4 separate regions of the Homo sapiens genome follow, and regions 1, 2 and 3 are each linked to region 4. Evidence: fine-mapped expression QTL. A gene starts in region 4. Each other region holds a variant in brackets. All regions are shown on one strand. Distances are from middle to middle.

Region 1 (7,437 bases), 230 kb before region 4:
TAGTCCACTGTGTGCCCCACTGTGCAAGTTCCTTTATCTGCACAAAACGTCTGGTATAAGCACCTGTGGGACAGGTCAGAGGTTCTCTGGGGACCCTTCCCTTAATGTCTGCCTAAAGCAAGCTGGCTAACTCCTTTCACTGCCACCTTGATTTCATCCCAGAAAGACCCATTTCAGACTTTGATCTCCAGAACAATGAGCTAATAAACGTGGGCTATTTTCACTACAAGTTTGCAGTAATTTATTATAGGACTGATAGGAAAAAAACCACAATACTCATCATGCTCTTCTTTTCAAACATTTATTTCATTCAGCCAATGTGTATTGAGTGCTTACTTTGTATCAGCCATGGATAAGTAATCAATATGAAATGTTGGCTGGGGACCAGACATAATTGGTCCCTGCCCTCATGGAGCTTACAGTCTAGCTGAGAATACAATGTTAATCAAATGGGGGGAGATTATCAATTGTCATGAGGGCTGAACAGGATGGGTACATAGCTCATGTCTTCTATTATCCCAGGCAATTTAGCAATGTTTCAGAAAATCACCCTGAGCCCACCCTGCCAGCCCTCATCCAGCCACTTCCTCTTCCAAGGATGAGAGAAAGGCAGGGACATAGCTGGCAGCAGAGGCCACCTTGTCCCCAAAGTGCTGGGGGACCTGTTCATCGGAGTGAAGCAGTTGACCAACTGCCCTTGACATTCCACCTCTGACCCTTTCGAGGCCAGATTGGTTGGCCAGGCTGCCTCCTTCTGTCTGTTTTTTTTTTCTGCACTGTCAATCAATAGAAAAGGCATCAGAGACATTTAAGAAGCACAACTAATCAGTGAAGCATTCAATTAATTAGGCAATCATTTTTCTGCACTTGATTTTCATTACAGTGAGTTTATTTTCATTTCTTGTGTAGGAAAAAACAGGTGCTCACATTTAGCTTCATCAGCTTCCTGTTGCCGTTGGATTCACGTATTATTTTAAAAATAGGTTTATTTTAGGGGAAAATGTGACCTGGGAAAACCCACTCGTATTTACTCCCCAAGGTTGCTGCTTTTGTTGTGGTGTTGGTGGTGTTTCTCCCTGCCCCCCAACACTGGGATGGTTTAAAAACATAAGTGAAGCTGTATCACATTCCACCAACCGTTGCTGAAGCCTTTGTTCCTTCTCAAAAGTTATGCCTTTTCCTTTCTCAGAGAGGAAAGAGGCCTAAATTTACATTTACTAGGAGCCTCTGAAACAGGTTATCCTCAATGTAGGTGGTGGGTAACATTATTTCCTAAAAGGCAACTGTGTTCACCCACTGACAGTTTCCAGGCCCCTCCCAGGGGGCTCAGAACTGCTGTAAACCCAGACCCAGTGGCATAAGGCTGGACGTGAGCCCAGCTGCAAACCCAGAATAATGACCTGCATACACACATTTCTCACTGCCTCTAGGATCAAATCCCCCATTCCGAGGCTCTCAGATCCCAGGATGAAAATGCTGCTGCCTGAGTTGGAATTGTCCTCGTGGTGCAAATAGCAGACTTAACAACATTCATGTTAATTACTTTTCCTGAGTGTCATTCTAAAAGAAAGAAATATACCAGTCTGCTTTCCGTTTTCAGATGATGTTGGCGGTCTTGTCCTCCAGCCCAACTACACTTGTGAGGTCTTTAAAGCACAAGTGAAGATAGTTAAGCTGCCCCTCCCCATCTCTCCCTCTCTTGTCTATTTTTCCTTTGTTTGTGATACGAAGGGTTAATGTAAAAATAGATGTTCTGCAGGCATCATAGAGTTCCTCTTTAGGTTCCCATGGAAACCGAGCAGCGCAAGTATGTGAAGAATTTTTTTAAGTTAGCCCAAGATTTTGTCCTCCAAAGATTTAGGGTCATTCTGCCTTGTGGTTTGGGGGCATTTTTTTTTAAAGTTTTTTTTAAGTAATTAATAAAATAACTTCACCTTCCCTCCATCCTCCCCAACCTACTCACAGAGCATTCTTTTATTTAAAGTGTCCAACACAAAGGTTATTTTGTGACATTTTGAATAATGCAACCCCTTAAGGGTATTTTTTTAAAGTTCTTTTGCAACAAAGTTTCTCCTCCCCAACCTCAGAAGACGGAAACAAAAGAGACATTTATTTC[G/C]TTCGATTTAAAGTGATTTGGAATTGCTGCTGGGGTTAGATTATGGGAAATTGCCCACCAGGGAAACAAACTTGGTCACCACCCCTGAACTGCAGTGATGACGTCCCATGGGGACACACAAGACAAACAAAATACTGAGAAAACCGAGGTTCTCACTCTGCCCACAGAGGGAGCTCCGAGTTGCAGCTGCCTCTTTCTGCTCCTTTTCAGTTCAGATAAATTGCACTTGGTCAACGGAAATGTCCTAAGGGCACTGCAGCTGCAGCTGGAGAATGAAGAAGACATAAAATTAGGGCTTTTGTCACTGTCGCTTGATTTCATTAAAGGGCATTAGTTCTCGGCGAGATATATGGGGTTGGAGAGGACAGGAGCCAGAAGCTCCCAGTGCAGCAGCAAGGCTGGCCCACGTGAGCACCTGGAGCATCATTTCTGCTGCCACATGCTTGGGCTGCCCCACCCCGCCGTGCCCTGCTCAGCCGTGCCCTGCTCCATCTCCCTCGCCAGGCCTGAGACCGGCCCCCAGTGTGTTGTGACTCCTGAGGTCTCTCAGCTCTCCCTCAACCCCCAGGAGAATTGCTCTCCACTCCAGAAGCCGCCTGATGGGGAGGCTGACCCCTCTCCAGGACTGACTGATCCAGGTACAAAGGGTCCCCTTGCGGCAGTGGTGGAGCACCCTGTACAGCAGTTTGGGCTCTGGGCTCTCCTTTGAGATCAGGCCAATGCCTGAGTCATCCTGGCTTGACAAGGTGGGATGAAGGTCTCCTCCACCTCCAGGTTCCTTCCTTCCCTCCTTTATAGGTTTATCCTGACAGTAACCTCTCCCCAGGTCGGAAGACCTCTCAGGCTCTGTTTCTAGGGAGGCTGACCTGCTGACAATGCTCCTAGCTGGATTTTGTAAGGTAAATATACCCTTTTATATGGGTTGAGTTATGTCCCCTTAAAAGATGTCAAAATCCTGACCGCTAGTATCTGAGAATGTGACCTTATTGGAAATCGGGTCTTTGCAGATCATCAGGTTGACAAGAGGTCACTGAGGTAGGCCTTACTCCAATAAGAAATGTCAAAGGTCAATGTCAAAGGATAAATCAAGTGTGTAAGGTCAATGCCAAAGGACAAATCAGATGTGAAAGGTCCATGTCAAAGGTCATATGAAATGTGTAAGGTCAATGCTAAAGGACAAATCGAATGTCAATGGTCAATGCTCAAGGTCACAAGTGTGTTCCTGACAAGGTCTTTCTCATTGACCAAGCTTTTGTCTGTCTTGGCCACCCCCAGTTGCAGCCCAGTTGCAGCAGGAGCCCTGCTGAGTCCACAGTGAGAGTCCCTGTCCCTGGGTCTCCTCTTGGTGGTTCCATCCACCAGCTCCTCATGGGCCCCCAGACTACAAATCCCAGGTGTCTTCATTGCATTTGGCATTGATCTCAGTCTCCCTCCTCCATTGCAGCGGTCTTGAATAAAGTCTTCCTCACTGTTTTAACAAGAGACAAGGTAATGTTCATTGAACATCTTATACAAAGAGGAAACCTGGCACAGAAGTGGACATGCACTCGGAGGGAAAATGCCAAGTGACAATGAAGGCAGAGATCAGGTGATGCATCTGCAAGCTGAGCAACATCAGGAATTGCCAAAAACCACCAGGAGCTGGAGAGGCCTGGGACAGAGCCTCCCACGGAGCCTCAAGGGAGCCAGCCCTGCCCACGCCTTGATCTTTGACGTCCGACCTCAAGAACTATGAAAGAACCCATTTCTGTTGGTGAAGGCTCCCCGTCTGTGGTCCCCTGTCCTGGCAGCCCTAGGAACCTGACCTCTGGTCCCTCTGCATCCCTGGCATCACTCTGCCTCCCTCTCTTTTTCTCCAGTGAATCCAACACACTCTCAGTGAGACAGCCAGGTGGCAAGGGGTTCTCGGAGAAACTCCAGCCGGCCTGCTCGCTGGGCATGTACACTGGAGTGGAGCCACAGAAGTTCACGGTGTTTGCAGCAGGGAGGAGCCTGGCCACTCCTCTTCCTGGTTGGAACCTGGAATTTATTTTGTGAGGCGGGAAGCCTATACTGGGGAGACTCTTGCTCTGCTGAGTCCCCATTCCCCCTTTATTTTCCTTTTTGCCCAATAAATCCTATTATTCTCAGTCTTCAAATTGTCTGTGAGCCTAATCTTTCATGGCCATGTGACAAGGACCCCGTCATTAGCTGAGCTAAGGAAAAGTCCTGCGACATCAGAAGGCTGAGTCCCAGGTCCTTTGTTCCAAGAGCTGAGCTTCCTCATGGGATGTGGGGAGGGGGGTCAGCGCAGGTGATCGGGAGGACTGAGGCTGTTGGAGGGGGACCCCAGAGGGAGGCTTCAGTGGCTGCATCCACAACTGGGCCACCTGGGCATCCTTCTGAGGCAGGTTTCTCTCCACGTGCATGGCGTGGCCCTTCCACACAGCTGTCACAAGCTAGGAGGCTCACATGCTCTTGGGATTCTCGGGACATCATGGGTCCCTGAGGGTGGCGCAGGCTGAGGGTGTGCTCCCCCGCCGGCCTGGCACAAAAACAGTAACATTAACATGCTTCTCCAGACCAAAGAGGCTGCTCTCAGTGTAATCAATGATGGCAGGGACTTCGAAATGTGCGTTTCCAGTGAACAACAATGTTTAGCCGCATGTAGTCATCAGGCACACCTAACTGGCTCCGGAAAGTGTTATGTTGTGAATTAAGATGACTGACGGAGAAATGTCAGTTTTATTAACATTCTTCCTTCGGACGATAATTTTATGTCTATAAGGATGAATTACAAAGGACTTAATGAAGGCGTCAGTCCAGAATGATGGGGTCCTTTTAGCAAAGCCTGCTTCCTTTCCTCGCTCTGTGTGTGGAGGTTTGATCTCTGCGTGGGGTATGGTTTCCACGTGCTGGACATGATTGGGCAAAAAGTCAACAAAACAGGCTGCTTGGCTTCAGGCTGACTGTGTAAAAGCCTCACCGGCTCAAGGAGGGATCGTCCTGGGCCCGACGGCAGCGAGTGAAATAGCAGCAGCGTTGCCATGGAAGATGGTTCCGTGGCACCCAGACATCAGCAGTGGGGCTGATGGGACTCACATCCACTCCATCACGACTTCATCTCCCAGGAAAGTGTCCTCCGGAGCTGGGAAGGTTCTTCCTTTGCCTCAGTCCCCGTTTCCTGCTCGTGTTCTGCCCAGGAGCCTGTGCAAAGGGCCCGTTGCCTCTCTCCGGCCCCTTGTGATGACTCCTCTCTGGGAAGTCCCCCACTTCCCGCACATTCCACTCTAGAAATTCCTTCTCTCTGCAGCGATCTGGTCATGTTTTCAAAAGGTGAGGTGCATTTTCAATTCTCAGCTCGCACCTAAGCTTCTGGCAGCTTTCAGGTGCCCCTAAAAATGGCATCCAAGGCTTCATCCTAGGCTACAGCCCCGCCCCCTTTCCGCCTGTGCCTCCTCCCACGGCCCCACCCACTTCCCTGCTGTGCCTCTTCCCACAGCCCCACCCCTTCCCGTGCTGGGCCTCCTCCCATGCCCCGCCCCTTCCATGCTGTGCCTCCTCCCATGCCCCGCCCCTTCCCGTGCTGTGCCTCCTCCCATGCCCCGCCTCTGAGCTCTTGCCCTTGCTGTCCCCTCCCCCCGGCATACCGTCCCCCTGGAAGCTTCCTTGCCCTCTCCGTTGTGTTGTGAGGTTTGAGTCAGGATGTCATTTATGAACAGGCCTGCTCTGAGCTCCCTCCTTGAGCTCTCCCCACCTGGTTCCGTGTTCTCACCTGCAGATTAGCCACTGCTGAGATCTCCTGCATGGACTTCCTACTTATGGAGGATCTCACACATGCTAGAAGGTTTCATGGGGAGGCCCTGGCTGCTCTGTCCAGGGTCTGGAGCAGGGCAGGTGCACAGCAAGGCAGCTCACTGCACGGTTGTTTGCGGAATGAAACGACTTTGCCAAAGCCATGGCCGCAGACATACGATGCTCTAAACATGTTTGTTATAACCATGTAAACACGCTTCTTTAGAAAAGCTTATTTCTTAGGAAACCTCTTTCAGTTTCTGTGGCAACAACTCAGATATTCCTGAGGTCCAGAAATGCGGCTGCTCTGCACGCTGGTCATGGGCCTCTCCTCACCTGCCCCCAGGACGGGAGCATGGGCTCCATCTCTGGGCCTCCTGAAAAATGAGATGTCGACTTGAGTGGCCTCCGACCCTGTGAGGCTGATGTCATCGCTCACCAGGCTGAAGTTCAGCCAGGCACTGAACCTTTCTCAGGCCCTCAAATTCAAACCCAGACCAACCTGTCACTCTCCTTTCCAAAGCATGGGCCACTCATCATGATCAAATGTCCCCTCTTCAATCTACACACTGCTTGGCATTGCCTGTTTGACTGTGAGAGACTCTGTGTCTGTGTGCATGCAACTGTGTGTGTATGTGAGCGTGTGTGACATTGTGTGTGTGTGTATGTGTGAATACAAGGAGGAGTGAGTGACTAAGAATGTGTGTGTGGGCATTTATGTGTGTGAGACAGAGTGGTGAAAGACTGCAGAGGCTAAGTGTGGGTGTGTCTGTGTGAGTGTATACAAGATGGGGAGTATGTGAAGCATGTTGGTGTGTGAGTGTGTGTGAGTGTTAGAATGTGTGTGAGTGTCAGTGTGACAGTGTGAGTGTGTATGAGTGCGTGTATGAGTGTGAGAGTAAAATTGTGTGATGAGTGGGTTTGAGGTGGTGTGCAAGAGTGTGCAACAGATTGTGTGTACAAGATGCAACAGAGATAGAGTGCATATGTACATAAGTGTGTAAACATGTATATGATATCCATGCATATATATATGGTGTGTGCCTAAATGTGCAGATGATATATAGTATACTTATGTGATATGTGTGTATAAACATGTATGTGATATAGATGCATGTATATATTGTATATATGTGACATGTGTGTAAACATGTACATGGTATAGATGCATATAAATATGTGATGTGTATGTATACACATGTATATGATGTGTGTGCGTGTGTGTGTGTCTTGGGAGGGCCTTGCTAGTCAGGGTGTAGTTAAAACATCAGCTGGGATCCTCCACCTACACAAAAACAAGGCAGTCAAAGGAGAACTTCACGTGGCTTGATGTCATTTCAATGAATGCAGAGTAGTGTTTATCTCTGGGCCAAATTCAGAGGCAGGGGATGGGTTTCAAGAGGGGCATGCACATGCAAACACACACACATATACACATGCATGCATGTATACACACTTGCATACACATACATACACATATACACACATGCACATATATACACGTACACACATATGCACACATACACGTGCATACATGTGTATGCATA
Region 2 (7,437 bases), 240 kb before region 4:
ATGTCTTTGGAATTTCTCTGTTGACAGTCTATTCATCTGCAAACCACGTCATTTTGCCTTTTTATCCCAATCCACATTCTGTCAGTTCTGTTCCTTACATTGAATTGGCCAGCACCCGCAGAAAAGTATCAGGAAGGCACTATGATAGCAGTATTCTAGAAAGTTCCTGATGTCCTTATCGTTTCGTGACTCTAAAGTTTCGTCATGAAACTCAGTGTTTGCTTTTTCTCCTTCTCCTCAGCACCTTTTCCCCTCCCCTTCCTCCTCCTCTTCCTTTTGTGTTACTCTTTATCAAATAAAGGATGTCTTTGTCTTTTCTCTCTCGTTTCGGATTTCCTAGGAGGTTTCTGGTTTGTCAGCATTCTGTTTTGTTTGCTTCTCTTACCGGCCGCAAATCTGTACAGTTCTGCAGCAACCTCAATTCTTGCCTCCTCAGAAGAAAGAATTCGACTGAGGGGCATAAGGCAGAGGGAGAAACTGAGGCAAGTTTTAGAGCAGGAGTGAAAGTTTATTCAAAAGCTTTAGAGCAGGAATGAAAGGAAGGAACGTACACTTGGAAGAAGGCCAAGCGGGTGACTTGAAAGATCAAGTGCGTGGTCTGACGTTTTGACTTGGGGTTTTGTACGTCAGCATGTGTCCAGGGTCTTGCGTCCTTTCTTCCCTGACTCTTCCCTTGGAGTGGGCTGTGCACATGCGCAGTGCTCTGCCAGCGCTCGGGAGAGGAGCATGCGCAGTGTGTTTACTGGAGTTGTGCGCATGCTTGCTTGAGGCATTTTTCTCTTAACCAGCGCAATGTACTTAGGAGGTCATGCGCCGGTTAAACTCTGCCATTATGCCTCTTACTGGGCATGCTTGAGCCCACGGGCCCAACTCCTGAGATCCCATTCGGAAGCTGCTGATCACCAGTTTCAAGTGTTTCTGTTTATTGGGAGACTGCCTTCCTCTGGCACTGGCAGTGACCAATTATTATTTTAGAGAGACTGTTAACGGCCTGACCATCACCTGATGAATATCAGGAATGTGGCCTGACATTCCTGGTGTGTGTGGTGTGGGGTACGAGGGGAGCTCTCTCCTACGCTGCTCATGTCTGACTAGTTGGATTCTGCAGAGTGGAAGTGGGAAACTCCTTCTGACCCTGGCCACCTGTCTCCATGTGAAGGCAGATCCATTTGAGTGACAGTCCGAGGCAATACCTCAACTGCCTCTCACTTCCCAAGACAAATAAACCCACTTGACCTTGATGTGCTTTTTGTGAATACATTGTGAGATTGGACTTTCGGATATTTTATTTAGAATTTCTGCGTCTATATTCTTTGGGAGGTAGGCCTATAATTTTCATTTCTCATCATGTCCTTGCTCAGTTCTGATATCAAATTATACTGGCATCAGAAAATGAGTCAGGTATTTTATTTGCTTCATCTATTCTGGAACAATTTGTATAAGAAGACAATTTTCTGTTTCTTGAGGCTGTTGTGAAACTCTCCTTGAAAAATCACCATAATCTAGTGTCTGAATAATTTTTATAAATTTTATCTAAAAACCATTTCTTCTAGGTGTTCAAATTTATTGTCAAAAAGTTGTTCATGATAGTCCTATGATTTTTAACCTTCCTTTTGCATCTCTTTTTATGCTCCTAGTGATGCCTTGTGCCTGCTTTTTTCACCATGATCTGTCCACTCAGTTGACTATTTTTCTTTCATTAGTTTCCAAAGAAATATCTTTGGTTTTATCAATCAGCCATATTTTGTTTGCCTTTTCTGTTTTCTTAATTTCTGCTCTTATCTACTGTTGATTTTCTTCTCCTTCTTATAGGCTTACTCTCTCTTATTTTAGTAGGTTCTCGAATTGAATGATTAGCTCATTTATTTTATAACATTTTTAAATGCATTAAAAGCTATAAATTTACTTAAAGAATTGCTTTAGCTATGTCTTATGAGTTCTGACATAAAGTGGGATTTCTTTCAATCAATTCTAAATATTTTGTTATTGTTACTATGATTTTTCTTTAATCTGTGAATTATGTTATATGTAGTTTTAGTACATCTTTCTATACATATTTGTAATAAGTGTTTGTCTGCTTTTAGCATTACTCTTTTAAATGGCATATAGAAGGATTTTTAAGTTATCTAATTAGTCTCTGTCCGTGATAGGTAATATTGTCACATTTATTGTAAGTATTGGTATATTTATTTCTGTCTATTTTTGTTTTTTATAGATACTAGCTTCTATTTTCTCTATGTCTTGACTTGTTGTTTTTGATACAGCTTTTCTTATATCTTTTTTCCCACCAATTTGGAAGTTATTATAGTATATCTCTCCACATATTTTAGCTGGTAAACTTAAGTTGTTAACATAATAACTGTCTATTTTTCTAACAAAGTCTAAAGTTATTTGACGTTTCCCTCCTTTTCCAGTTTTCCCCACCGTACATTCTTGTTTTACATTTTAATTCAATACTCTTAAATACAAATTTCCAATTAGTGGTTAAACGCATTCAGCAAAATACTTTTATTATTATTTTTTTGCTCAGTATTATCTTTAGCAGACCACTCCTTCCCCTTTGGTTCACTTTTCTTCTTGTTGGAATATATCCCTCAGTAGCTTTCTCTGCAACCATCTGAGGGTGGTAAATCATGTTTTCTTCTAGTCCATATTTTAAAAATATCTTGGCCTCTTTTGCCCTCACTCTTGAACAATGGTTTCACAGGGTGCATCAAATATGGCATTTGCAGTTAGTTTTCTTGACAGTCTGAGGCTATTTATTCATTGTCTTCTAGCATCTACTGTCACTGAGGAGACATTTGTTGCCAGTCTCATGGTCTTTCTTTTGTCATGATATCTCTTTTCTTTTTGGTACCTCTAAATATTTTATTTCATCTTTCTGCACTGCAACAATGTTTCATCATAATTCATGTATACTTATATATATATACATTCATGTATATATTTATCCTGCTCAGCACTCCAAGTGTTTCATTAGCTGAAATTTCCTGCTTTTTCATTGAATCTAGAAAATTTCTAGCCATGCTTACTTCAAATATTGTTTATTTGCCATTCCCCTTGTTTTCTCCTTCCTGTGTGGCAGAATCTCAATTTCTTTTCCATATCTCTTAACTTATCTCTCATAAGATAAGATTTTTTCTCCGTCTGCTGCATTTAGAAGGAGCTTCACAACACTATCTTCCAGTTCACAAATCTTTCTCTGACCAGGTTCATATCCATTTGTAATTTTAAAAAGTTCCAGCCTGGGTGCAGTGGCTCATGCCTGCAATCCCAGCACTTTGGGAGGTCGAGATGTGTGGATCACTTGAATCCAGGAGTTTGAGACAAACCTGGGAAACATGGAAAAATCCCGTCTCTACAAAAAATACAAAAATTAGCTGGTTGCAGTGGCACACACCTGTAGTCCCAGTTACTGGGGAGGCTGAGGTGGGAGCATCACCTGAGCCTGGGAGGTTGAGGCTGTAGTGAACTGTGATCACACCCCTGCACTCCAGCCACCTGGATGACAGAGTGAGACCCTGTGTCAAAACAATAAATAAATAAATATATAAATAAATAAATAATGACTGTATGTTTTACTTCCAGAATCTTGAACTGAGCTTTGAAAAGTGATCTGTTTTTAATTCATATCCAATCATAATCTTTCCTTATTTTTCATATATTTCTTTCTTTACATCTTTGAGACCTTTAGATCTTTGAGACCATAGGGTATTCTATAGACATCTCGAGGTTTCCTGTTGTTTGCATTTCACTGGTGATGAATGTCTTAACTGATAATTGTCGCTTTAGTGTGTAAATCTTCTTCATGATGTTCAGAACCTTCTATTGAGTGGGTCTCTCTCTCCCTTCTGCCCTCCACCCAACCCCATTTGGTGGTTTCCCAGGTGCTTTTTCTCTGCCCCTGAGAATCCTGGTCAGAACCACATTGTATTGGAGGCCCCTGCTCCTGCCTGTCAAGATCCTGGGGAGAGCACAGGTGCAGTCACAGGGCAATTGGCAGCTTAGCCCAAGTCTGGACCACGTGACTGCTCTGCTTCCATTGGGACCGGCTCTCCCCGGCCTCCTTTCACTCGCTCCAGGTTTCATACATGAATCTGGCTGGGGTCTCCTGCCATGTGGGGTGCCTGGGTCCCTGTCATTTTCAGGAGCCAGATCCCTGCCACTTCCAATAGACTCTTGCCCTGGAGCCCTGCATGTCCACAGCTCTGCCTCCTCCTAACAATTGCCTCTATTGCAGGTACACGGAGCGCCTTCTTTTCGTTTAGAGCATTGGTAAGTACCTAAGTATAAATTCGATTGACCTTTGCTGTGTTGGAGAAGAGAGGACAGTTCCAAGTTTGAACTCAGTTGCAAAGTTTCCTAGCAGTCCAGCCCCACATCCCCCCAGGGCTTGGCTCACTGGAGATGTCTCTGAGTAGGAATGAACAAAGCAGAGTCGGTTCCTCCAATCTCATGTATTTTAGTATTTTAGGGTACTAAGAGTCTTCTCCCTCTGAAGTTATAGAGAGGGAGCTTTCCAGTGCAAGGAAGACCCA[G/T]GGCACAGTCTGTTCCTGTAACCCCAAGGCCACCAGGAGTCTACAACCAGGCTCCTTATCCAGTGGGGGGAGTGGAGCCTGCAGGAGAAGAAGGCAGGACCCATCAGAGGCCTGATGGAAACAGGGTCCCCAGCACAGCTGTGTGGGGGGCAAAAGCCATGAAGGGAGATAGTGAGGCTGCTCTTGGGTGGGCTGGTGATGCCATCTTTCCTAATGAGATGTTAAATGAAGTTATGGCAGACACAGACTCCACTGATTTGGGAAAAGATGATCAATGAATTCCCATCTTCAAGTGCACTTATTAGCTGCTGCCTGACATGACAGACTGAAAAACTTAGAGATGAAATTAGTGGTGTTGGTGTGTCATGACCCAGCTCAGTCTGAGTGGATATGCGTGTGTGTGTGTGTGTGTGAAAGAGAGAGAGCGAGCATTTTCTTAAATAACTAAAATTCTCTCGCAGGTGTCTCCACATTAGAAGCATCCTATGTAGCTGTTCTGCTTGCAGCTGCCCAAGTCTGCCTGGGCCTCCTGCATGAGGTCATGAGTCTTAATAAAGCCACTGACCCACACATTTGGAATCGTACTGACTTTTCACAACTAACAGCCAACACATTGCCAAGAAGCAATTCAATTGTTGAGGATATCACATCATGCCAGGGAAAGAGAGATGGAATTCAGAAAGCCTGGGATATTGCAGGTAATTACTAAAGCGTGTAGTTTATAGATCAATTTGCTCCATCTACTCAAATCCAAATAGTCTAGGACCTCAACTGCATGAAAATCTCTGTAAATATTTGTGTTAAAAGCCCCTTGGTAAACATTCCCTGTGGTGCATTTGGAGCCCAGGCAATAAAAGATGTTTTGTTTCAGTGCCTTCTTCCCACGATTTTAAAAGGAAATGGGAGAACTGTGCAGTCACACTGACATCCCGCATCCACGCGGAATCTGCTCAGCCACGGTGGAGCATCCATTGGTGCACCGAGGGGGATGGCAGGGGCCCCAACACACAACACGATTTATATCAAAGCAAGGAGTGGCCAAGTTTTCTCTTTCTAAAAATTCGGTTGCTTTAATTTCATGTTTAATGTGGCACAGACCCTATCCTATAAAGAGGGCGTGAACAATTGAGCAGCGTTAGACTGCACTGAGGTGATAACATTGATTAAACAAAAACGGTACCTGTAATCCCAGCACTTTGGGAGGCCAAGGAGGGTGGATCACAGGAGGTCAGGAGTTCAAGACCATCCTGGGCAATTTGGGGAAAACCCGTCTCTATGAAAAATAGAAAAATTAGCTGGATGTGGTGGTGTATGCTTGTAATCCTAGCTGCTTGGGAGGCTGAGGCTGGAGTATCACTTAAACCTGGGAGACAGATGTTTCAGTGAGCCAAGATCACGCCACTGAACTCTAGCCTGGGTGTCAGAGCAAGACTTGGTCTCAAAAACAAGTTAAAAAAATTAAAAAAATAAATAAAAAGAGGTAGACGCGAAACTGCAGTTACGGTGACCAATAGTCATCCGTGTTCACGTCTCTTTAAAAATTTGTATTACAAAAATATGTGTATGTATATGGCCTCTACTGAATTGAAAAGACCTGACATTGATAATGCATTTCATAACGAATATAATTTGATGATGTGATGAACATAATGCATCCCTAATAATCTCATGATTCTTTCTTTCCCTCAGCAAATAATTTTAAGCTTAGGTCATGTGTTTTAAACTGTGTTGGAAGCAGGGGCACTGTGGAGAATGTGCAGAAAGAGCTCTCTAACCGCACTTAATTTTCATTCTAGTGAGGGGGGCTGGTGGCTTCAAGAAACAAGTCAACAAAGGAGGTTATTTCAGGTTGTGATCATTGCTAGGGAATAATCACAAAGGGGCCGGGCAGTGACAGGTGTGTGCGTGGGGTGAGGCAGCTCTGAACCCTTCTCTTCTCCATGGCAGGTTCTCTCCATTCTCTCTCTCAGGACCCCCCATTCTTCATTCATGAGGCTTATCATCATTCTCTCTTCATGAGCCCCATGTGGACAGGGGCTTTATCCATCTCCTTTGCTTGGTCATCTCTGGGTCCAACATCCAGCCTGCCTGTGGCCGTTAATATTCTGCATGAAGGGATCAGTCTACACACAGAAACTTTGGCTGCCTGGTCTTGTTTCATGATGACTCTGGAATTATCATAATCCCATTCTTTTTAATTATTTCCACCATTCTGCTGTATGCAGTTTATGTTACAATTATACGTTGGCAACTAAATCTTTAATTGTCCTCTACTCATTTCATGGATCACTAGGAACCTTCCCCCCCGCCAACTAAATTACTTCTCAAGGGCAGGGATATGTCTTCAATTTCTTTATTACTCCTCACCATCAACGCATTTGAGCACTAATGTCTGGGCCGAGCCCAGTGCTCCATCCATACTTGCCGACATTGTAGAATGTGTATTATTCCCTGCGCAGTCAGTGGGGCTCTGCCGCTGGAAGAGAGAGGAAGCTTGGATAATTGAAATATCCCCATCTCAGACATTACTGACTAAGGTTAGGTAAGGGCAAGTCAGACTGACTTTCATATCTTGGGGTTTTATTTCCTGCTGTTTCTTGTATGTATTCTTTCAGAAAACCTTAAGAAGGAAAAGTCTGGGCCACAGAGAAAACAGGGAGGTGAAGAAAGATTCTCAAATATTTTTCTTTAGAAGTCAAGAGTTTGCTCTAATCAGTTTCAAGAAACAGCAACAACAGAACCCAAAGGCCATGATGAATCTGTTATGTCCTCTCTCCCTCGTCCCTCCTCCTCCTTCCTTCCCTCCCACTCTCCTTCTTTTGGACACAATCAGCTCCAAATGGAATAAACAAGGAAAATGATGCTTAGGTGGGTTCCACAAACACTGACGTGCTGATCA
Region 3 (7,437 bases), 320 kb after region 4:
GTGTAGAGCTGCAAAGTGCCCCCTGCTGAAGCAAATTTTTTTCTAATTACTACCCTCCCTAACCCTATTTAAACATGTAATGAAGGTGATTACAGAAAACTCTTTAAGGTAAACCGAAATGAATGGATTTATTTAAACTCTTAATGAACTTGAAACTCTCCAAACCGGCGCACTCCGGGGCTGGAATCACTCATTGTGGTGCTGGTGGGAGCTGAGAATGGGTTGCCGGGCCTGCCAGCCGAATGCTTAGCTGAGGGGGACAGCTCATTTATTATCCGGGTCTCTGGGAAGCAGTGACCAATTAGTCCATCTGCTCAACACTCCTCTTCCAAAAACAGACAAATTAAGCCTGGACCAGAGTTCCAAGCATCAGACCTGGCTGGAATGTGGAACTGCCCCTAGAGAGAGTCTCTACCTGCAAAAGGAAGTCAAAAGAGGCACCTCAAAGTAGGGGCTTGGAGCGATGCACCAGGCTTGTAGACTGGGAGGAGGCCCAGAGGGCCCTTTAGTTACAAGGCCTTGCTCTTGCTGGTGGCTGACCTAGGGAGGCAGTGGACAGCTGTGAGCCAGGGCTGGAGTCCTGGAGCCCTCCTGGGCGCATGTGGAAATCAGCTTCATGAATATATAGCAGTCTGTGCTGGGAACACCTGTCCCTCGTGGCCTTGAGCATAAATTTCACCCCGCTTTTAGACATGAGAATGTTCAACGTTCTCCAGAGCACTGAAGTCTACAAACACTCTCTTTGCCCCTTCTGAGCTGTGCTGTTTTACCAGCTTCATTTCTTAGAGCGCTTGGGTACGGGACAATTTGTTTGCTCTTTCTTCTAGGTTTCCCTCTCACCAAGTTTGCCCCACCCATTCTGAGCTTGACAGGCACCACTGTCCCTGTGTTCCACATGAGCAGGCTTGTTCATTGAGGGACGCTCATTCAATTCACAGAGGGGGCTCTGCTCCACAGCTTTCCACTGTCCCTTAGTCTGCAGGGCAGGGCATGGGACAGGTGCTCATGAGGAGCACCTCCTGAAGGAGGCATAGAACGAAATTCACTGGATTAGGAATTGCACCATCCAGAGCCTCAGGGGTGCTAGCTTTGTCCCTGAGCAGTCTCTGATGTTTATCATGTCCAGAAGTAGACAGAACTGGGAATCATCTAATCAGGTGTCGGGAGGATTCATCACTTGGCACAGGTGTGAGTCCCCGAGGTGTTCCCGCTTTTCCGTCATCTCGGAGGGACCTGCCTATGCTGACTGGTGGGTCATCAAGATTAATAAAGACAAAGGCTTTGGCGGATGCTCAGCTCAGGAAAAGCACCTGGAGCTGCTCTTTCCTGACTGATTAATTAGGGAAAGACGTGGTGGCTGTAATTGGCGGTTGAGTATTTTCTGAATTTTAACATTCGCGGTATGCAAATCTATCAGTTTCTAACAATATCTAACAAGATTATTTGAAAGTGAGAGTCTCCCAAGAGATGCAGGCATGGTTCGGGGGAGATGTGGGGCTCTTCCGGGTTTGTATGCACTCATATAAATCAACGGAACGTTTGTTACCAATTGTTACTAACGTTCTTCAGCAAATTGAGAGATCGACCAGTAAATACGCATTAAACATAATCCTATCTACCTGTTGCATTTAATTCCAGCAGCGAAGACCCATTACACTACTGAAGTTTGATGAATGTTTTCTCTCGCTGCTCATCTGACTTGGAAACGAGTGTGTTTGCTCAGGGCGGGGGTAGGGGGTGGGGGAGTCATGTGCGAGCCTTAGCTCCTTCAGTTTCCACGTGGAAAACTCTAAATTGAAATCCGTACCTCCAGGGACCGTGAGACCAAAGAGAAAACTGTTGGGCCCCAAAGGGACCATTTCCTACCATAATGAGAATTTTAAATGGCGGGTTTGAAATTCCTTGAAAAGCCTTTCAGAAATGTGTGTGCAAATGATGGTTGCTGAATTACTGACAGAGATGCAATTAAATTCAAGGGAGAACGTCTCCTTATTCTAATTTCCAGCCTGAAGACCCTTCTCCCTATCCCAGGAGGAGCCCAGGAACGCAAGCGAGAGCCTCTGCAAGTCACCCCAGCTGCCGCGTTTCCACCCAGGAGGAAGACGCACGTGGGGCGGCACGAGAGATAGACGGAGGTGAGGATGGAATCGGAGATGAAAGGCCCAAGGGGTGGGGCCTGGAGTGGGGCCCTCCCGACATTTCCTTCCCAATGTATTGACCTCTTCTTCTCTTAGACACAGACTAACTAAACCTGGGGGCAGTGTCCGACTGGAGCCAGGGCCCCCTCCCACACCACAGGAATCGGCAATTCCAGCGGCCTTGTTCTGAGCTGTGGGGTGTGGGGCTCCAGTGAATCCCAAGTGTATTATCTCCTTGCACCTTCAGCACTCCCTGGGCAGTGCACACTCTTCCTACCCCATGTTACTGAGTCCTCATGAATCTGCAAGGCTTTAGAACCCAGTGGGCAGAGCAGGCAGACCAGGGAGGCAGCTGCTTCCACAAGTTCCTGGCTGTGAGACCTTTCTGATGAGCCTCCTCTCCTTTGCCTGTAAAATGGGGATACCCTGCTGGGATTATCCATGCCCTGGGGTTGCTGTGAGCGTTCAGTGAGGTAACCCATGCCTTGCAAGGGTGCTCTGTCTGGCCAAACCCATGGCGAGAGTCACTCCAAAATTGACAGCAGGGGAGTTCCTGCAAGAGACAGCCCCAAACTGTTCTGAGATGGGGCTGGCTGGAATTCCAGAGGGAGAAGAAACAATTGCTGGGGTCCTTGCTGTAAAGCATTTACCGGGGGAATTTACATACAGCGGCTGAAGCCCCGTGACAGAAAGCAAGGAAAGGGATGTTTTGCCCACGTATGTCCATGATGAGGTCACGGTCTGGCGTTTGAGGGTTTAGGGAACTTGGCTCAAGGTCGGACTGGTTTCTACATGTTTAGCAACGTGGTCTCTCACTGACTGCTGCAAGCAACAACCTGAACGACTTTATCAGTGCCTGGGAATGTTCCAGAGTTCAGCTTGGGTTCAAGCCTGTAGGAGAAAGCCTGCAGCTGGCCGGGTCACAGAGCAGTCAAGGCAATCTGGGCTACTCGGTCAGGACACAGAAAGAAAGCAGTGAGGACTTGGGAGGACCTACAGTGGGCTCAACAAAAGTGGGTCTTGTTATTCCGGAGGTTAAATCATCTGACCAGCACAAGAAAGCAGTGAAGTTGGGATTCCTACCAGTGGTTTTGGCCCCAGAATCATCTCCACATGATACGTTTAGAAGGACAGGGGCCTCGTCAATGCCTGTGGGTGAAAAGATGCCCTTTCTCTTTTCTACTGAAAGTGCCCCTGTGAGACCAAGGCTACTACCATTCAACAGAGGCAGGAATGGAGGTGCACAAACTGACTCCCTGGGTCAGTATTTCTGCTGCTTTTCTGGGTGCCAGTGGGGTTAGGTTTCATGCAAAAAGCCCACAAACAGAGGTTACTCTTCAAAGCCACTGCCCCTTTTGAAGACAAAAAGCGGGGAATGTCACAGCACCACAGCTGAAGACCAAGAGGTCCTGGGAGAAGCAGGGAGTGGTTAATAACAGGAGGAGAGCCAGGACTTTGCATATAAGCTTGCAATGCACCCCATCAAGACTTCCCCGGGAGCTTTTTCCTGTGCTGGGGAATAATACAAATGTGCCCATCAGTGCAAAGGGTGCAGTGAGGGCAGGAAGTTACAGTCACCATCAGGGTCAGCCAAGGAACAGTACATAGCAAGCTGGGTGAGACACTCTGTGCCCCAGGCAGGGCCACTGGGGCGAGTTGGGCCTCAGATGTCCTGCTTCTGAATGAGGGCCTTGAACTCCGTGGTGCCTACATCCTCTCCAGTTCTAAAATAAGATGACATTTAACGAGGTCCCACTGTGTTGATGGGGCACCGCAGCGACCTCGTGTTAAACAGCACCATATTGTTGATGGCTTGACCAGATGCCGGGAGCACGTGATCTTGCTACTGAGTCTCCGTGGCCTCCACTTGGCGGCACCCAAACAAGAGACAGCAGTGTGCAAAGATACTGGGTGTGGGTTTCTCTAGTAGCAGAGAAACAGAGCCTTCTGTGCTTGCAGGGTGCTTGCCCTGCCCTAAACAGCATGAATCTGAACCCCACCCATCCGAACAGCCTGGGGAGGCAGGATGGAGAGACGTCAGAGGGCGGTCACCAGTATCTCACTGCACAGGGGCTGGAGGTTTGTGTCTCGTTAACCTAATGAGGTGACGGTAACTTCCTGCCCTCACTGCACCCTTTGCACTGATGGGCACGTTCATGTTATTCCCCAGCACAGGAAAAAGCTCCCGGGGAAATCCTGATGGGGTGTAGCGCAAGCTTATAAGC[A/G]AAGTCCTGGCTCTCCTCTTGTTACTAACCACTCTGTGCTTCTCTCAGGCTGTCCTGGTCTTCGGCTGTAGCACTGTGACATCCCCCACTTTTTGTCTTCAAAAGGGGCAGTGGCTTTGAGGAGTAACCTCTGTTTGTGGGCTCTTTGCATTCCTTCTTGGCTGCTGGGCTCTGGAGATCCTTCAGTGATACTTCAATGCCATTGATAGCAAATGCTTCAAACTGGATCTTGCTGTCCCATCTCCACTGGGCAGAATGGGCTGACCCCACATGAAACATGTGGGGAGATTTTAGTACTAGTCCATCATAAAAACATTTCCTCTCAGAATTTATTTGGATAAAGTAAAGCAGATGAAAATCACCAACTGCCTCTTCCTTCTATTTACTAAATTAGTAAGCTGATGAATAAACCAACGTATATTGAGTGCTTACCCTAGGCCTGAGACTGTGCTAAGTTAGTCTGTGATCTATTATTAATTTCCTCAACAAGTTTGTTCATTAGTTCAATAGGTGTTTCCTGGCCTTTAGCCATGTGCTGGTTATTATTCTAGGCTTTGGGGACAGAGCAGGGAATGAAACAGACAAAACGATGCAAAGCTCCCTCACGCCCAGAGGGAGGTAACTTCTAAATGGGGAGAGAGGTGACAGCAAAGTACATGGGTACAATAATAAAATGCACTAGACAGTGGTCGTGAATGTAGAAAGAAACAAAGTGGTGGGACTCAGGAAAGGCCTCAAGGGGAACATGACCCTGGGCAGGGTGCGGAAGGCAAGGGGTGCCAAGCAGGCAGGGCCATCGGGGGAAGAACACCGCAGATCGAGGCTCCTTGGCAGAAAGGCTGGGGCAGGAATGGGAAAAAAGAGACCATAGGCATAGGTGGAGGCAGATAGGAGGGAGGTCAGAAGAGTGGGGTGGGGTCCTATGGACCATTGTGAGTCCTTGAGTTTTTATTCTATACTGTTCAGGAATCAAATGTAGGGTTTGGAGCAGTGGAGGCACCCAATCTACTCTCCGTATTGGAATTAAACTAGGAGGAGGCAGAGGTGGGAGCGGAGTGGGAAGCTGCGCGGGACCCATTTGGATGGTCTAGAGGGCCCATCTCGGGGTGGCAGGAAGGTGGGGAGGTGTGGCTGAACCTGAATAGATCCCCTTTATCCTAGGATTGAAAGAAGTAGCCAGTGAGCCAGATAAGATGAGCCAGGACACACGATGCTGATGGGTCAAGGAAGGTCAGTCCTGGGAGCTGACCACAGATTGGACTGACCCAGAAGACAGTGCCAGCTCCCTGAGGAGGGGCAGCTGGGTGGATGCAGTGAATGCCAATCCCTCTTTTTGGTACCAGCACCTGGGTTTTCCTTGGGGAGAATGCTACTCCCTTAATATACACATCTTGCCAAGCTGTCACTCAAGAGGCTCAGTTTCCCTTGGGTAAGGCAGGGATGGGGGGCTCAGCTAAGACCAACAGTCTCTCCCTCCTGAAATTCTCATCTTTGACTGGCATAAGACAAAACAAAACAAAACGACAAAAAAAGCCACGAATTACCCCAGGAAGAGGCGCCGTGAAAATACTACATGCTCTTCCTCCTGTTCCCTGGGTTTGTTCTTCCTCCTTTTCCCATTTCCTGTTTATTCTAAGACTTCCACTTCAATTCCTCTATCCCCTGTGATTCCAATGACCTGTCTTTGCAGAAGAGCTTTAATCAGCTGGTCAGTTTCTAAGGCTTTCATCCAAGGAACCCTCATTGATGTGAAACAACAAAGTGAGACTTCCATCCTCGAATGTGCAGCCAGGAAGTGGCAGAAAGGAGCTTTGCATAAACTTCTTCTCATTTCAAATCCTATGCTCTTTCTCCCACGCCTCAGCCATTTGCCTTTAAAATCAATTGCATCCTGAAGTGAAGAGCTTTGCAAGAACAGTGCTATCAGAAACAACCATACTCCACCAGAGCAATCACAGCACCTCCCAGAACCCCTGGGACTTTTGCTTGGACTCGGGCAAGTGAGTAGACAGCTCGGATGGGGCGAGCACCTGCTGGTTCATCCACCAAATATGAACATGGCCCAAGAGTGAGACCCCAAGACCCGAAATTGCACCAATGACTATAGCTATACAAGAAAATGCCACTGGACAAATTTTGCAGAGGTTTCTTTATTGTTGCTGTTCTCAGCAAACCTAAGAAGTCATTTCAGTTTGTCTCAGTTTTTGTAGAAGAACAAAAAGTTCAACATTAAACCATGTGTGTAAGTAGCGTGGAGTGTTTACTCTGCCTGATCTATAGTTTAGGACCAACAATTTCCTATAGTGGGTAAATTTACCCAATGATGGTTTAAATGGTGTCTATAATCTAAGCTTAATATAGTCATCTAATACATTGACTATAGGCACAGCCAAGTTGCCTGCTTTTGATTCCTTACTCATTCATGTGGATATGTACCCAAAGAAATCTCTGACTTACACTTTGCTGCTTCTTATTTCTACTTCCTAACAATACACTACAGACAGAACACCCCCCACACACACACTTACACACGTGTGCCATCACACATCAGCACCACACAAGCAGTCACATACCCTTCATGCATGGATAGATATGTGTATTAGTCTGTTCTCGTGCCACTAATAAAGACATACCTGAGACTGGGTTATTTATAAAGGAAAGGGGTTTAATGGACTCACAGTTCCACATGTCTGGGGAGGCCTCACAATCCCAGCGGAAGGCAAAAGAGAAGCAAAGGCACATCTAACATGGCGGCAGGCAAGAGAGTGTGTGCATGGGAACTGCCCTTTATAAAACCATCAGATCTCTTGAGGCTTACTGCCTATCATGAGAACAGCTGGGGAAAGACCTGCCCCCATGATTCAATTACTTCCCACCAGATCTTTCCCATGACACACAGGAATTATGGGAGCTACAATTCAAGATGAGATTTGGGTGGGGACACAGTCAAACCATATCAACATGCACATCATACACACATACAAGCACACAAGCACAGAAACCACCAGACAATACACCCACTGATTTTTCCGATAATTCACTTACATTTTGGTGGGTTTTATCATCGAAAATGT
Region 4 (7,437 bases):
GCAAGCCAAGGAATCCCGTCTTCCTCTCTCTGATGCATGGGTACACTTTCACAGGCAGTTCAGACCTGGCATTTTCTCTTGCCGGCCAGTGCTGGGCTGCAGGATGATTGTCTTGTGAGTCATTTTGTGGGTGGGAGTACAGCTTCTTGGCTCCCACCTCTGCCCCAAGGCTTGGTCTCTGCCTTGCGCTCAGCTATGCGTGTAGTGCAGCTGTGTGCAGCCTCACCCAGGAAACAGCTCAGGTGCCAGGGGGAGGAAACCCCAAATCTCCAGCATATAACCTCCCTGAGAAGGAAAAGCGACTTTGCGTCACTCCCCCTGCCCCCGACAACCATGAGCTTCCTGCAAGTTTTACTGGGAGGGGGGTAGCCAGGAAGATAGGAGAGTCAGGGAAGACACTCCTGTGAATGCTTTCAAGAAACTTATAATAATTTTAATCAGCATTTTCCCTTCCATTTAAAATCACAAACTTAGCTACTTAATCAAATGTCATGGTTAAGACACATTTACCTCCTTGGGAGAAAAATGAACAATGGCAGCTCAATTTGGCTTTGGATGGGTTTTAAAAATAGTCAAGTCTGTGAAGGCCATTAGATAAATGGCCTCAGAGAGCTTCAAAGAGGACCTCCTGCAGGGGCCTGCTGGCTCCTTTGTTGGGAAAATAGGGGAGGGGACTAGGTGAGGAGACCGCAGGGGTTCCCCAGGGTTCCAGGCTGTGGACTTCCCCCAGCGGGGAGAAAGGGCCAGAATTAGCAGGGTGACCGGAAGAACTTTCCACAGCATGAACATCTGAACAGTTCCCTTTTGTATCGCCGAAGCTGGGAGGCGTGTGTGTGTGTGTGTGCGCGCGCACACGCGTGTGTGTGTGTGTGTTGGGTGGGAGTGACATACACACAGCTTCCCAATCCCCAAGGGAAGAAAAATGAACCAGTTAGAAATATGAGAGCCATCAATGTATAGAAAACCAGTTCTAGAAATGCTGAAATGCAAGTTAAGGTTTTGTCGTTTTACAGTCTGTAAAAAAAAAAAAAGACAATGATTTTGTCATCGAAATAATAATAATAAGCTGGGCGCGGTGGTTCAGGCCTACAATCCCAGCACTTTGGGAGGCCAAGGTGGGTGGATAACCTGAGGTCAGGAGTTCGAGACCAGCCTGACCAACATGGTGAAACCTTGTCTCTATTAAAAATACAAAAATTAGCCGGGCGTGGTGGTGCACACCTGTAATCCCAGGTACTCGGGAGGCTGAGACAGGAGGCTGAGACAGGAGAACCTGGGAGGCAGAGGTTGCAGTGAGCTGAGATCATGCCATTGCACTCCAGCCCAGGTGACAGAGTGAGACTCCATCTCAATAATAATAATAATAATAATAATAATAATAATAATAGGTGGATTGCTCTTTTTGGAGAGAGGCAGACCTGAGTTACCCTAGAGAAAAAGGAAATCAGTGTACCCTGGTCCCAAATCCTAATTTTAAGCCTGGGTGAGGGCAGAGGGCATCCTCCGTCCCCATAGACTGAAGAAGCCCTCACTCACCCGGGGCAGCAGCTGTAGTCTTAAGGCTCTGACTTCGCCTGGAGACTTCTGCAGGGCTTGTTCCCATCTCGGTTGTCAGAAAACACTTCCTTCTACTATTTTCTTTGTCCAGAGATTCCCAGGGTACTTGGATAGAATTCAAAGGGTCTTTCAACTCGTATGGGGGAAAACTGGCATCTTTATTTAACCCTAACTGAGACTTGGCATTTCCTTTCATTATCAATGTCGGTGGCAGAGCTCAGTGCCTGTGACCGTCAAACATAGAAAGCACTGGCATTTCCATATCACACTGCCATGGCTGCAGTTACCTCAGGATATTATTGCTGCATATCTGGACTTCAAAAGGAACGTAATTTAGGATCTGTCAATTGCTTACTAAGTGTATTAATAAATAATATATACGGCTATATCAGAAATTTGTTTTTATTACTCTTTTGATAATGCATTTGCATAGAATTGGTTTCCTAATAATCCTGGGCTTTTTCATCTATGCACTTAGAAGCCATTCTGAGAGAGGTCAGCAGGTGTCCACAAGGCTGCCCAAGGGGTTCCTGGAGCCGACACGGTCCGGTCCGGAGCCCCTCCCTGCCCTGCTGGCTCCTAGTGTGCGAAGCCGGCCCCTTCCAGGCCCACTCCGGTTGCAGGAAGGGCCTCCCTGGTGCAGCACCGCCTCCTCACACCGCTAGGTGGCAGCACTGCCGGCGCCTCCTTCCCCGCCGGCCGCCATAGGCCCCGCTGGTTCCAGGACCTCCCTGCCTCCTTCGCCTCTTAATGGGATCCGCTCCCTCACACCCCTCAGGGAGAGGCTCTAGGGGACGATGACCCAGGGGCGGCCCGGCAGGGAAACTGCTGAGTCACCCTGCTGCCTCTCGGGTCCTCTGACCGGCTCACAGATCACCATAGCCACAGTGTGTGTAAGGCCTTCTCATGGAGCCCTGCAAACACCTCCCCGGGGAGGGGCTGTGGGACCCATCTTACAGATGAGGAGACCGAGGGTCGGAGAGGCCACACAACTCGGCCAGGACCCCGAGTTAGCAAGCGCTGGCCCCTGGTCCAGCCACGGCAAGGCTGGCCCTCCTGCCACCACACTTCCCTGCCTCTGGCCCTCTGCCGGGAGTCTTGGTGGGGAAGTCACTGTCTTCATCCTCCTGCCCGGGCAGAGTCCAATCCTGTGCCTGGCTCCTCAAGACCGTTGGCAAAGATCCTGGAGGCCTGGGGGTGAAAGGGCTGCTTGGGGGACTTAAGCCCCAAGCTATGGTTCGCCTGGGAGACTGAGCCCCAAGCCATGGTCCTCCTGGCTCTGCCCTTCCACCCCCTCACTGGCTGCCCCTCCCAGGGAGGCCTCACCTGTGAAGTGCTTCCCGCCCCTCTCACCCCCCACGGCTCTCACATGGCCTGGGGCGATTCCAGAGCTGGCCTGGGTCAAGCACCTGCACAGAGCACAGAGCGAAGGCTCGGCATGGTATATCCCCCGCCCCTTGCACCTTTCCCCAGTGAAGGGTGGCACCAGTGTCCTTTCCAAGGCCCGGATTCTGCACTGCCCTCAGCCTGTGGAGGATTAAAAGCAGGGTTTTGCCGTGGTTTCTCAAGGCGTCAGCGGGTCTGCAGAGGATTCCGCCCCATGTCACTTCTCTCAGTGAAAGGTCCCCGCCCAGCGTCTGTCCTCCTTTAAGTGCCCCCCATTTGTTTTTTGTTGTTGTTTTTGTTTGTTTTTTGCAAATACAGACTAACCAGGTAGGCACAGAGGAGTCCTGGCATGGGAAGGGAGCAGTGAAACGCCGGTGGAGAGTCCGGGAGGCCCAGATTCCCTGGAACTTTCCAGTGACTCCTCCGGAGCAAGGGCCTGGCCAGGCAGCAGCTGCGCTGGGCGATGAGGGACCGTTGGGTAATTGGGGGCATAGGACCGGGCTTCGCTGGGTTCGGGGCAGAAGCGCCGAAGCTCCGACCCGGAACGCGGTGACTTCATCAACGCAGAAGCCCGCGCAGCCGAGCAGAGGAGTCCCTCGTAGGCGACCCTCGGACAGACGCTCCTGCGCGGCCCGCGTGGCTCAGCTCCGCCCCAGGAAACTTTTCGCGCAGCCCCCGCTCCATGCGCCCCCACCCAGTCCTTCTTCGGGGCCGCCCCCTCCCCAAAGTAGCTCTCCGGGTCCACTGGGCGCCCCCGTAACCGGGTCGGAACCTCGAACGGCTTCGCGTGCCATCCGGTTACCCTGGCAACACCATCCGGCGGCGCCCGGCGGTCCAATCCTAGCCTGCGGCCTCTCTCGAGCCTTTCGCAAGGTGGGGACCGGGACGCGACCGGGGATGGGGAAGGGGGCTGCAGGAGGCCCCGCCTGCGCTGTCGCCCCTGCTGGGCACAGCGCCCCCCACCACCCGCGGCGACCCCGGCCCCCGCAAGGTGGGGCGGCGAGCAGGAGCCGGGGCCAGGCCAGGGGCTCGAGCTCCCGTTCGAGGGGCGGGGAAGGCGGGTGACGTGAGCCGGGCCGGGCGGGCGGAGTTGGGACCGGCTCCGGGAGGCGGGGGCGAGCGCGCGGAGAGGCAGACGCGAGGAGGGAGGCGGCTGAGCAGCGCGGGCGGCTCTGCGGCGGGCGCGGTGGGCGCGGGCGGCGGGGCCCCGGGATCCCCGCGCGCCTCCTCCGCGCGGCGCCGCCGCCGCGCGTCCCCACGCCCCGCGCTCCACGGCGCCCTCGCCCCGCGCGCCTCTCGTGCCCGCCTCCTGCCAGTCTCCGGGCCGCGGCCGTCTGCAGAGCGAGCGCTCAGACGGAGCCCCCGGGCAACTTGAGTGGCGCCGATCGGCGGCGGAGCCTCTGGCAGAGCCCCCCGACCCGGCAGCGCGGAGGGGACTCGCGTCCGTCCGCGTCGCGTCACCCCAAACCCTAAGCAGCGCCGCCCCATCGGCGCGGAGCTCCGGCTGGAGGCAAGAGCCGCGCGCCGGGAGACACGCACCGTGAGCGGCAGCGCCGCCGGCCTCCCTCCTCGCCGCCCCGGAGGGCGAAGCCGCGGCTCCCCAGCCCTTTGCTGCGCCGCGACAGCGCCGGAACACGCCCCGCCTCGCTGCCGCCTTCGCTGTGCCGCCGGCGGAGGGGGCCGCGAGCCCCGCGCCCCGGCCGGAGGATGTGCGCCCCCGCGGGCCGCCCAGCCTGAGCCATGCGCCCCAACGGCGGCGGCGCGCCGGCCGGCATGGAGCCCCGCGCGGCCGCGCTCTGACTCGCTGTGCGCCCCGCGGCCGGCGGGCGGCGGGAGGCGGCGGACCGAGAGCCGGAGACCGGCGCCGCGGGACGGAAGCGAGCGGGCGCGGGCGCCGCGCAGATGGCCTGGGCGAGCCAGGTCTGAGGCCCCGCTCCCCGAAACGTGACCATGTGGATTCAACAGCTTTTAGGACTCAGGTGAGCGACCCGGCCGGCGCCGGGTGCGTGTGGGCGCGTGGGTGCCAGGCTGGGCGGAAGCGGCGCTTTCCTCTATGTTGCAAATCAAGGGACCCCTCTTCGCTTCCCGCAAGCGGGCAACGGGGTGCACCGGTAGCCGGAAAGGGGCGCCCGCCCGGAGCCTGGAGCAGCACCGCGGCCCTGGCGGGGAGCGGCCGGGTCTCCAGGGTTCCGCGCGTCCGGGGTCGGGGCAGCGGCGCCCGCCCCAGCAACCCGGGAAGTGGGGCCGGCCAGGCGCGCCCGCAGCTCTAGGAGCCAGCAGCGCAGTGTCCTGGCCGGCTGCCCCGGCGCGCCTCCTCCCCGGGGCCCGGGGCGAGGCGCCGGCCGCTGGGCGCGGCGGGCGCGGGGGCCGGGGCTGCCGGGGAAAGCTAAAGCTCCGGGCTCCCAGCGAGAGCTTCGCAGGCGGAGTTGGAGGAAACCACAGCCAAACAGCCACTCCGCTCCCCCTTCTCCTTTCTCGGGGCCCCGGGGCTGAGCAGGGGCCTCCCAGGCTCCCAGCTGCCGACCCAGCTGTTTGCGGGTGACCTCCGGGCCCGACGGGCGCTCACAGCTGGCGGGCAGCTGGGGCGGGAGAGCTGGGGTTCTTGGGGAGCTCCGGCGGCCACCCCGCTGTAAACACACACGCACATACGCCCGCCGGCGCGCCCGGGGCTTGTCTGTGTCTGGGACTCCAGGGCCAGATGGAAGAGGGGGTTCGAGCCTAGAGCCCGTGGTGGGGGTGTCCAGAAAGACCCTTCTCGGCAAACTTTGCCAGCCCGCCGGGGTTCTCGGGCTTCTCTGGCTTCTGCCTGGGGTGGCCCAGGGCCCACCAGAGCACAGCTGTCGTTTTTGCTGGGCAGGCTGCCTCTGAGCCCTCGCCCTCCTGCCGGGGCATTCACCGAGCTCGTGCATTTGGGTCCCGGGTTGGAACCGCGAGCGGGGAGGACAGAGGTGGAGGCGGAGAGCAGCGTGCGGTTCTCGAGTTTGTCCACTGGGATGCACTGCGCTCCCGCGTTGGGGACGAAAAGGCCAGTAGTTGTTAGCCCGCTGCTTGAGCCGCCCCCACTCAGGGATGAAGCTGCGGGGGGAGTGAGGCGAAGGGAGGGAGGATCTAGTGCGTGTCCTGATTTTGAGAAATCGGAAGGGGACTGGGACGCCAAGTGTTTTCTAGCGACCCTTGATTTATGAGCCGATTCTGCTCCCAGAGGTGAATACTGTGTAACACATCTAGTGAACATTGTCAGATGTTATTATTAGCATCCCTTCTCTCAGTGGCCGATCTTGCTGTGGGCTTCAAAGGTTAATCATGGAGCCGATTGTGTTGGGTGTGGGATATTGGTCGGGCGTGAATCGATAAGTGTGCTTGGGCTAGATAAGGTTTAGGCTTGGACCGTTGTGGGATGTTGGCAAAATGGAGCGAGGACAGCTTTGCAGGAATGACCCTGATCCAGGTGCCCTGGAGGCCTGCCATCCCCTGCTCTGCCCCGGACTGTCCCAGGTCTCAGCAAGACCTTCCAAGGCTTTGTGAATGACCAGACGGGTCCCCACACTGGCCAGTGGCTGGTCTTCAGCTCCGACCTGCTTCCTGAGCTGCCACTTGATTCCTGATGGCAACTTATTTGAACAGACATTTTTTTTTATTGCTAAGTTGCTAGATTAAAAGATGAGTACATTTTGATAAAGGGAGAGAAGAGCAAATATCTTGGAAAGAAGCCTCTCTTTTGATTTGAAATTTACTAAAACAGTTCCTCTCAAGCATCCTCAAGCCGGATCTTGGGATTTTGCTTTAGGAAATAGTTCTGTTGGTTCTTTTGAAGTTTGACCTTTCGTTTTTCCCCCCTCGATGTCAGCACAGGAGATTTTCTGTAAGTGTGCCTTTAAGGACGAGCTGTCACCTATTTGGGATCCTGATGGGAGAGCTCTGTCTTGTTACTGCTGTCTCCTGGCCAGAGAAGGAGGCCTGTACCCAGAGGGTCTGGGTGGTTTTGCATCACAATGGGCACCTGGGGACTCTGAGCCAAAGGGTTGCAAGTTCAAGGTCTGGAAATGCACTTTTTCTTTCAAGACAGCCCTTCACCTTTGCTTGCAAGCCACTCCGCGGCTCCCTAGGTGAGCACTGGGCGTCTTGCTGCCAAGCTTGGAGCCTGGTTAGGACAGGTAGACACTGAGCCTCCAGCTGGGGTGGCAGAAGGCCTGGCTTGCTCCACCATGGGAGAGGTGCAGTGTAACTTGCTGGGCAGGGGGTGGGGGTGGGGGTGGGGTGGGCTTTCTTAGTTCCGGCCCCAGAGACGAAGTCTGGGCTTGGTTATTTACGTCTGTGTTGGAACTGAGCTGTATGTGGAGCTTTTTTTTTTTCTTTTCCCCCCAAGAGGGAGAAGCAGATTGAGACTTATTGAGCAGCTTTTGTGTCTTTTGCGGTGGCATTTAATAGTTGTAGCAGAGCTCCAAAGATACTTTCCATCAGCTGAGAGAGAGGGAGCCACGGAAGGAGACCCAG

Which allele goes with the higher level. Positions count from the first base shown, and alleles are read on the strand shown. Sizes are in standard deviations (SD) of each study's normalised expression. Not every link is listed here.
In carriers of allele G in region 3, the expression in esophagus muscle of the gene that starts at base 4,077 in region 4 tends to be lower than with A alone (small effect, 0.29 SD a copy in GTEx).

What was found. PIP is the estimated chance that this variant, and not a neighbour inherited with it, causes the effect.
Region 1: its variant is the best candidate, but not a certain one, in a credible set for the expression of AJAP1 in T cells (TOPMed, PIP 0.59).
Region 2: its variant is the best candidate, but not a certain one, in a credible set for the expression of AJAP1 in whole blood (TOPMed, PIP 0.64).
Region 3: its variant is the best candidate, but not a certain one, in a credible set for the expression of AJAP1 in esophagus muscle (GTEx, PIP 0.69).

What each region holds. Positions count from the first base shown.
Region 1 is chr1:4,420,434-4,427,870 of GRCh38, forward strand. LINC01777 (long intergenic non-protein coding RNA 1777) reads left to right here. Exons shown (of 6, transcript NR_027088.1): 4 at 2,327-2,754; 5 at 2,915-3,015; 6 at 3,561-4,251. Among named protein-coding and RNA genes, the nearest start is that of LINC01777, 12 kb to the left of the region's middle. RefSeq lists enhancers at 2,580-3,080, 4,638-5,139. The variant G/C (reference allele first, on the strand shown) is at 2,117.
Region 2 is chr1:4,411,313-4,418,749 of GRCh38, forward strand. It overlaps LINC01777 (long intergenic non-protein coding RNA 1777), which reads left to right and starts at 739. Exons shown (of 6, transcript NR_027088.1): 1 at 739-1,320; 2 at 4,241-4,275; 3 at 5,000-5,236. The variant G/T (reference allele first, on the strand shown) is at 4,539.
Region 3 is chr1:4,974,957-4,982,393 of GRCh38, forward strand. LINC02781 (long intergenic non-protein coding RNA 2781) reads left to right here. Exons shown (of 5, transcript XR_946902.2): 4 at 2,006-2,135. Among named protein-coding and RNA genes, the nearest start is that of LINC02781, 5.3 kb to the left of the region's middle. The variant A/G (reference allele first, on the strand shown) is at 4,364.
Region 4 is chr1:4,650,533-4,657,969 of GRCh38, forward strand. AJAP1 (adherens junctions associated protein 1) reads left to right here and starts at 4,077. Exons shown (of 6, transcript NM_018836.4): 1 at 4,077-4,922. The coding sequence starts at 4,894. RefSeq lists an enhancer at 2,068-2,117.